2 linked regions of the Homo sapiens genome follow. The protein of the gene in region 1 purifies or fractionates together with the protein of each later gene. This does not show direct contact. Each region holds a gene or a part of one and is shown on either strand. Other genes may lie near its edges.

Region 1 (5,037 bases):
ACTTTCCTCCAATTCTCATGCATAAGGATTATATTTTCCTTCATTGAGGACCACTAGATTTTTGTACTATGATTTCAAAAGGTACCCTTGCACAATCTCTGCTAGAATGGACCACAGAATCGCTTTTAGTTTAGAAGTCTGGGTGAGAATTGTCAGACTATTTTCCTGTGTTGCAGTAATCAGATATTGTTATAGCTATAAAACACTGGCCTCTTTTGATTTCCTGAGGCCCATTCCCTATTTTTAGCATTCATTGCCAGGCAAATTATGTGAGGCAGATCCTGTCCTTCCCACTATGCGCATGCCATTTTGTAACTCAGACTAGAAGACACGGAATGCTATGAATTTCGCTGTATATTACCTTTGGATGTAGAAATACCCAACTTTTTTAGTTTTCCTTAGTAAAAGTAAAATTGATCCTAGGTTCATCTCCTTCTAACAAAGATGACAAGAAAGTCATCTCAGTCATCGTGGACCTCTCCCCGCTCTGTTCTGTGGAAGTCTTCAACAGTTCATAGCATTCAATTTCAGGGAGCCCGTTGATCTTCATGCTCATTAATAACCATGCTGATGTGTTCATTATCCAAGCAGCAGGGTTTCTTCAAGGCAGGTGACTCAGATGCCTTCCTGCCATGCTTAACACAGCCCTGCCTAGGAAGATGCACCATATGCCACTCCTCTCTAAGGTTTTCCTCTGAAAAGGAGCAAGTTCCACTCAAAAAACCCCAAACTTCTAAGCCTTTAGACAGACAACTCCAAGTTTGTTTTGTTTGATCATCAATACTTTTGTTTGGAATATTCAGATAAATTTCTAGCAATTGTAATTATAGAAATGGTATAATATGTAGAGCTTATGTGACAGAACTGTTTACTTTACAAATGAGTTTAGAGATCAATATTTATAAAAATAACTGGGGATCTCAAGGAGATACTTGAGAAAGAATGAGTGACAAGGTCAAAGTGGCTGACCTTGGAGGAGGGAGTGCATTCAATCTTGGGCATAATCTGAATTAGACTGTTCAGTGCCTCATAATCTCTCCTCAAAGGATCTAGAAACAATATGGGTCTCTTGCCTAAAGTTAGAAGTAGGGGAACAAACATCCTAAAACTAGTCCCTTTTTTTACTTAACTTAGTTTATTTCAGTAGTCTAGGAGCTAACCTAAGGGTAATCTCCAGAGTACCTGTTCTGGATTGGAACAGTCCAGAGAATCAGCGAGTCTGAATAAAATTTGAAGTACAGAGTACAAGAATTTAAGAGACCACAGAGACTGTTGAGCTAATTCACTTTATACTCGCTGTCCTGCCCTTGAATAAGAGCTCATGGAAATCAGCTTACATTAACACTTATGAACATTAGAAATAGGGCCCAAGGAGGGATATCCACTGACGATAAGTCCTTGCCATTAGCAGATGGCAGGTGCAGCCCTGGGGCGGTTGAGCAGCAGGGGCCAAGTAAAGAAACTCACCCCTCAGAGTGGCAATGCACCTTCTCATTCATTGGGCTGTGCTCTTTTTTTAACCAGGAAAGATACCATAATACTTGTGTGATTAAAATCTAATTTTGTAAATTATGTGTTCCTAAAATATTGGGTGTGTGGTTGATGTTACTAGGCAGTCACGTCAATTCATCTTAAGGAAAAGGTAATACTTATAATTGAGATTTCACTGAGAAAAAGTGGAAAATACTACTGAAGGATTGCAATATATCATTTATTGACATATTAGAAACATCTAAAAGGTGTCATTACATGGATTTTGATACATCTTTGAGCACATCATCAGCTTGAGACTAGGAAGGAACACTGTAGAGAATCAGTTCAAGCAGCACATGATACATCTGAGGCACCAACACACAAAAAGAAAGAAGGTCAGACACAACCTACATTTGCAAGGTACCATTTACTTGATGAAGTTCTAAGAGAGTTGACAATGGGCTTTTTAAAAAGAAAAAAAAAAGCTTTGGAAAGTCTAGAAATTAAACCAAAGGTCCAGACTTTAAACTTTAGTCTCACATTCTGTAATATATTTTGATAAACAGTCCAGAAATGCTTAAGCAGTTGAATTACCGAAACTACAGTTTGCAGCTAACTTATAAGTGACTCCAGGATTTCAAAAAGACAAGTTAACCTCTGATCTAGAAAGCATGTTTGAATCTAAAATATACTTTTAAAAAGCATTCTTGTTAGGTTCATTGACATGGACAAAATTGCGTATTTATGCATAATCTATGAGAAAGTATTTTGGTTGTTGTACTGGTATAGAACAGTCTAATTCGGCGAACTCATCGTCAAGTAGTGATGAGATAAGATACTAGCCTGATGACTGTCTATTGAAAGGCTGATGCAAAGGTCATGACTGACTGATGCAGGCAATGAGTGGCATGAGAGTACCTGATATTACACATTTGTGCAATGGACCGGCTATCCTGAATGAGCAACTCATCATGTTTGGTGTGTCACCTAAGCTAATTACTATAAATAGACCACATTCACTACTTAGGAAATATTGGGTTTCCAAATCTTAGCTAAAGGTTTAGAAAAAAAATGCTCCTATGCAGTGTCTTGCTATACTCACAACTGAATACTACCAGCAGAGATCAGTTTTAAGTGACACTAACAACAGCTGGAAAACTATGTAAAATGTGTTCTCTCTCTCTCTTTGCGTGTGTGTATTTGCATTTAATGAGCTGCTGAGAATGATGGTTGTCCGTATGATTCTCTCTTGAATGCATTGGAAAGTTGTTTCTTTGCCTGGGATCACTTCTACTTGGTAAGAACTATTAATGATTAAATAGTTCTGAAAAGAACAGGGTTGTCCACACTAAACCAAGTTCATGAGCTATAGATTTTTGCTAGTTTATGTGCTTTCCTTATTTTCTTCCCTTCCTACAAAGTATGAGACCATTAGCACACATGTTGGAGTGTGTTTGCCAAGAATCCTGAAGGCCCAACACTAGTATTGATTAGTCCTCTTACTAAAGCACAATTTGAATTGTCTTAAGTTAACAGGAGGGCATAGCTGTCCAGTCAGCACTCACATTTCCATACAGCTTTGTTGTTCTTGACATATACGATAGGTCTAGCAGTAGAGATCAACGAAGGTGATGCACCCAGGAGACATCTGGCCACGTCTAGAGACATTTTTGGTTGTCACAACTGGGGAGAGGGTGTTACTGCCATCTAGTGAGTGGAGGCCAGAGATGCTGCTAAACATCCTACAACACACAGGACAGACAGCCCTCCAAACAACACCGAGTTTTTTTGTTTAACCATCATTAACACTTTTGTTTGGAATATTCAGATAAATTTCTAGCAAAGGTAGTTATAGAAAAATTATATAATATGTAGAGTTTATATGGCAGAATTTTTTACTTTACACATGAGTTTAGAGATCGGTACTTATAAAAATAACTGGGGATCTCATAGAGATACTTGAACTTTTCCAGAGAAACTTTATTCCATTTTGTGTAGCGTATGTATTATTTGAGATATTGCTTCAGCAGTCTCAAGAAATACATTAAAATTAGCTACTTCTTATCCAGTGACTTCTACCTGTGCCAGGCACAATGGCAGCACTTTCATACATTGTGTCATTTAATTCTCATCACAACCTTGTAAGGTGCAGCACTACTAATCCTATTTTACAGATGAGGGAACAGAGACTAAGAGAAGTTAAGCTGCCTCCTCAAGGTCACGCAGCTGGTAAATGATAAGACTGGTATGCAAACCCAAATATGTCAGACTCAAAGCCCTCTTTCCTCTATATGATGCTGTCCTCAGGAACTATTGAACTTTTTAACCATAGAGCAAATAGATCTCAGCAGCACGAGAGGAAACATAAATGGAAATAACCAAAAATATATTCATCTAAGATGTGGCTACATTATACCAAATGTGCTAAGTCTCTGCTTTCCTTCTTGGATTTGCTCAAAGCAGCCTAAAAGGGTTGTGCAGGTTATTTCTACAAATCTCTTCTCACCTAGATAGATCAGGAAGAGAAGAAACCAGATTTTTCTTCAATTATTTACATAACTGAAGGGGAAATGACAGTTTGCATCCCCTAAAATTTTTAGGCTGCAAAATGAATGGTCCTCACTGCTTCTCACCTGAGAACCACCCACTTTACCATTTAATCTATGCACATCTCATCCTCAGTTGTCATTCTGGTTTGGGAAGATCTCATCAACTTTTAAGAATAATCTGGAAATGCTTCTGATATTTTTAATCTATAATTGTATCACATTCAACTCCAAGTTAGTTAACCTTGACTGTTTTTCACAAGATTTCAATACAAGAGCCTGTGTCAGGGGACGGGTCTGGGGAAAGTTTCATTTCTGGAGCAAGATTTATCTCTAAGGCATCAGCTACTATGACATATCATAATTCAGGGGCCACATAGATGGGATATTTGGGTACTCAGAGCACATACAAATTAGTATGTGAACAAAATATATTACTGGATTACTGAACGAGTTCAACCACACCATGATTTACAGTGCCCTGACAGAGTCAGAGCCAGGACCCACAGGCCAGAGCCTCTTCCATGGGGGGAATTCTGCTTCTACTCCATCAGATAGAACCCAGACACCCAGATTTAGTCACTGAGGGTTTGGTTTGGGGCTTTTGTACATTCTAACAAATGTTAAAGCCTCGTTTTCTATGTAGGCACTTTATAGATTTATTACAAATGACATACTCCAAATACTACCTCCTGATTTAAATTCTTTTCTGTTTGTCTGATAGAAAACTACTGATGTCCCCAGCTTACATCATTGTACTTGCTGTGTTACCTTCAAATTCCAAAGGCTTTCTTCCTTTGCAGAATTTTTAAAAATTTATCTTCAAAACCCAATTATCCTGAGCTCTTTTCAAGTAGGCCTATAAAAACCCAGGGATTATTCTCAGAAGTGAAGCAGCATCCTGCTTTTATATCTTCTGAAGTGGCCACAGTTCAACATTAAGGAATGATCAGGAAGCAGTCTCATCCATAGTCCCTTCCATAAACTATATTGACTATTTTAAGCCTTTCTAAAGCTT
Region 2 (3,500 bases), on another chromosome or scaffold:
AGAGACTGAGTTTCACCATGTTGGCCAGGCTAGCCTCAAACTCCTGACCTCAGGCAATCCGCCCGCCTCGGCCTCCCAAAGTGCTGGGATTACAGGCATGAGCCACCGCACCAGGCTGATAATTGTCTTTTTGCTAATGAAGCAGATGCATGTACAATGATCGAGAGAGTTCATGAATTCAGAAATGCTTAACACACTTTAAAATCTTTATAAAAAATTACAATGAATAAAGAAAAATTTAGCCATCTCCTATTCCTCTTTCCCAGGTAAGCAGTATTAACAGTTTGGGACAAGTAATTTATTTTCTTTTCTTTTTCTTTCTTTTTTTTTTTTTTTTTTTTTTTTTTTTTTTGTGAAGATGGAGTCTCACTCTGTCATCCAGGCTGGCGTGCAGTGGCGTGATCTTGGCTCACTGCAGCCTCCGCCTCCTGGATTCAAGCAGTTCTGCCTCAGTCTCTCGAGTAGCTGGGACTACAGGCACACATCACCACTCCTGGCTAATATTTTGTATCTTTTTTTAAGTGGAAATGGGGTTTTGCCATGTTGCCCAGGCTAGTCGTGAACTCCTGAGCTCCAGCAATCTGCCCGCCTCAGCCTCCCAAAATGCTAGGATTACAGGCATGAGCCACCATGCCCAGCCTCTTTTTTTGTTTTGTTTTGTTTTGTTTTGTTTTTTGAGACAGGGTCTGCTCTGTTGCCCAGGCTGGAGTGCAGTGGCCCGATCTCAGCTTGCTGCAACCTACGCCTCCTGGGTTCAAGCGATCTTCCCACCTCAGCCTCCTGAGTAGCTGGGACTACAGGCGCACTTGACACTCGACCACACCTGGCTAATTTTTTTTTTTTTTGAGACAGAGTTTCACTCTTGTTGCCCAGGCTGGAGTGCAATGGCCTGATCTCGGCTTACTACAACCTCCACCTCCTGGGTTCAAGCAATTCTCCTGCCCCAGCCTCCTGAGTAGCTGGGATTACAGGCATGCACCACCACGCCTGGCTAATTTTGTATTTTTAGTAGAGATGGGGTTTCTCCATGTTGGTCAGGCTGGTCTCAAACTCCCGACCTCAGGTAATCCACCCGCCTTGGCCTCCTAAAGTGTTGGGATTACAGGCGTGAGCCACCGTACCCAGCAATTTTTTTATTTATTGCAGAGACAGGGCTTCAGACTCCTGAGCTCAAGTGATCCGCCTGCCTCGGCCTCCCAGAGTGCTGGAATTATAGGCGTGAGCCACCATGCCCGGCCCATTTCTCATTTTTATGCTTATACAAACATATCACCACTTTGGCCCAGCGCAGTGGCTCATGCTTGTAATCCTAGCACTTTGAGAGGCCGAGGCAGGTGGATCATGAGGTCGAGAGATCGAGACCATCCTGGCCAACATAGTAAAACCCCGTCTCTACTAAAAATACAAAAATTAGCTGGGCGTGGTGGCACACGTCTGTAGTCCCAGCTACTTGGGAGGCTGAGGCAGGAGAATCACTTGAACCCGGGAGGTGGAGGTTGCAGTGAGTGGAGATCATACCACTTTACTCCAGCCTGGCGACAGAGCAAGACTCCATCTCAAATACAAACAAATGAACAAAACAAAACAAACATATCACCACTTTAAGATTATTTTTAAAAAGAAATTTTTTTTTTTTTTGAGACATGGTCTCTGTCACCCAGGCTGGAGTGCAGTGGCCTGATCATAGTTCATTGTAGCCTTGATTTCCTGGGCTTCATGCGATCCTCCTAAGTCTCTCAAGTGGCTGAGACTACAGGCATGTGTCACCACACCCGGCTAATTATTGTATTTTATTTTATTTTATTTTATTTTTTTGAGATAGAGTCTCACTCTGTTGCCCAAGCTGGAGTACAGTGGCAAGATCTTGGCTCACTGCAGCCTCAACCTCCCAGGCTCAAGTGATCCTACCACCTCAGCCTCCCAAGTAGTGGGACTACAGGCACATACCGTCATGCCCAGCTAATTTTATTTTTTGTAGAGACACGGTCTCACAAGTTTCCCCAGGCTTGTCTCATGGCCTCAAGCAATCCTCCTGCCTCAGCCTCCCAAAGTGCTGGGATTACAGGCATAAGCCAGTCATATTTATTATTTTTTTTGTAGAGATGGAGTCTCATTTTGTTGCCCAGGCTGATCTTGAACTCCTGGGCTCAAGTGATCCTCTGACCTCAGCCTCCCAAAGTACTGGGATTACAGGCATTTAGCCATCGTGCCCAGCTGATTTTATCCGTCCCAATGGCTGCTCCATATTTTGGAAAAAATTGATTGATTTTTTATTTGCAAGACATTTGTCCTTTTTTTTTTTTTTTTTTTTGAGATGGATTCTCGCTCTGTTGCCCAGGCGGGAGTGTGATGGTGCGATCTTGGCTCACTGCAACCTCTGCCTCTCAGGTTCAAGCAATTCTCCTGCCTCATGCTCCTGAGTAGCTGGGATTACAGGTGCACACCACCACGCCTGGCTGATTTTTGTATTTTTAGTAGAGACAGGGTTTCGCCATGCTGGGCAGGCTGGTCTCGAACTCCTGACCTCAGGTGATCTGCCTGCCTTGGCCTCCCAAAGTGCTGGGATTGCAGGCGTGAGCCATCACACCCAGCCTAAGACATTTGTCTAACCACATAAAAGTCTTAAAAAGGGATAGGGCAGCCGAGTATTTGTATTGTAAAAATACGAAAATTACCTGGATGTGGTGGTACGCGCCTGTAATCTCAGCTACTCAGGAGGCTGAGGCAGGAAAATTGCTTGAACCCGGGAGGCCGAGGTTGCAGTGAGCCGAGATCGCACCACTGCACTCCAGCCTGAGCAACAAGAGCAAGACTCTGTCTCAAAAAAAAAGAAAAGAAAAAAAGAAAAGAAAGGATAGGGCTTCCTGTGACCTCACTTGGAAAAAACAAAAGAGAAAAAAGAAAAAAGGGATAAGGCTTGCTGCCACTCAGGGATCCCTCTTGCCAGGCTCCCTGGCTAGGAATTGTCTCCATTGGGAGACTTCCTTTTCAGGCCTGGCTGCAAGCTGCACCAAGGCTGTGGAGCGGGAAGATTGGTAGTCTCAAAATAAGCACCCCTGCCTCCTGCTGGGACCTTGGGTATGTGTTTAGGATGGGAGTGCAGTTCTGGTCCAGTAGGAGCTGGCAGCAGACCCTCCACTGCCCTTAACCACAGTGCTCATGGGCAAAGCACATAATCATATTCATTGATCATTCATTCATTCATTCTCAGTATCCTATGGAGATGGGCAGAGCAGGTGTTGGCTGGATGAGTGAATGCATCTTGCTTTGCAGTGCCTTTTACTCCCTCTATCTGCCAAACCAGTCCTGGGGACTGACCAGCTCATCTCCTCCTCTGTAGAGAGTCTGCCCAGGTTGCCAGAAGCAGAGTTAAGGCTAGTTCACCTGGGCTCTTCCAGAGACCCCTCCTATAATTGTGTCCCAAGGCCCATTTCTCCTAGTGGACTATGAGCTCCTCAAGGACAAAGCTTATTTGTATTTGGCTTTCCATGTGTGGGGTC

Evidence for each region. Proteins that work in one complex are often made in the same cells at the same time.
Region 2: the proteins of ANKRD34C (region 1) and NIPSNAP1 fractionate together in Homo sapiens (co-fractionation; one large-scale study listed by BioGRID). This does not show direct contact.

Annotation. Positions count from the first base shown.
Region 1 is NC_000015.10:79,294,893-79,299,929, reverse strand, and holds the end of ANKRD34C (ankyrin repeat domain-containing protein 34C), read right to left. Parts: 3' UTR 1,691-5,037; downstream 1-1,690.
Region 2 is NC_000022.11:29,571,114-29,574,613, reverse strand, and holds part of NIPSNAP1 (protein NipSnap homolog 1), read left to right. Parts: intron 1-3,500.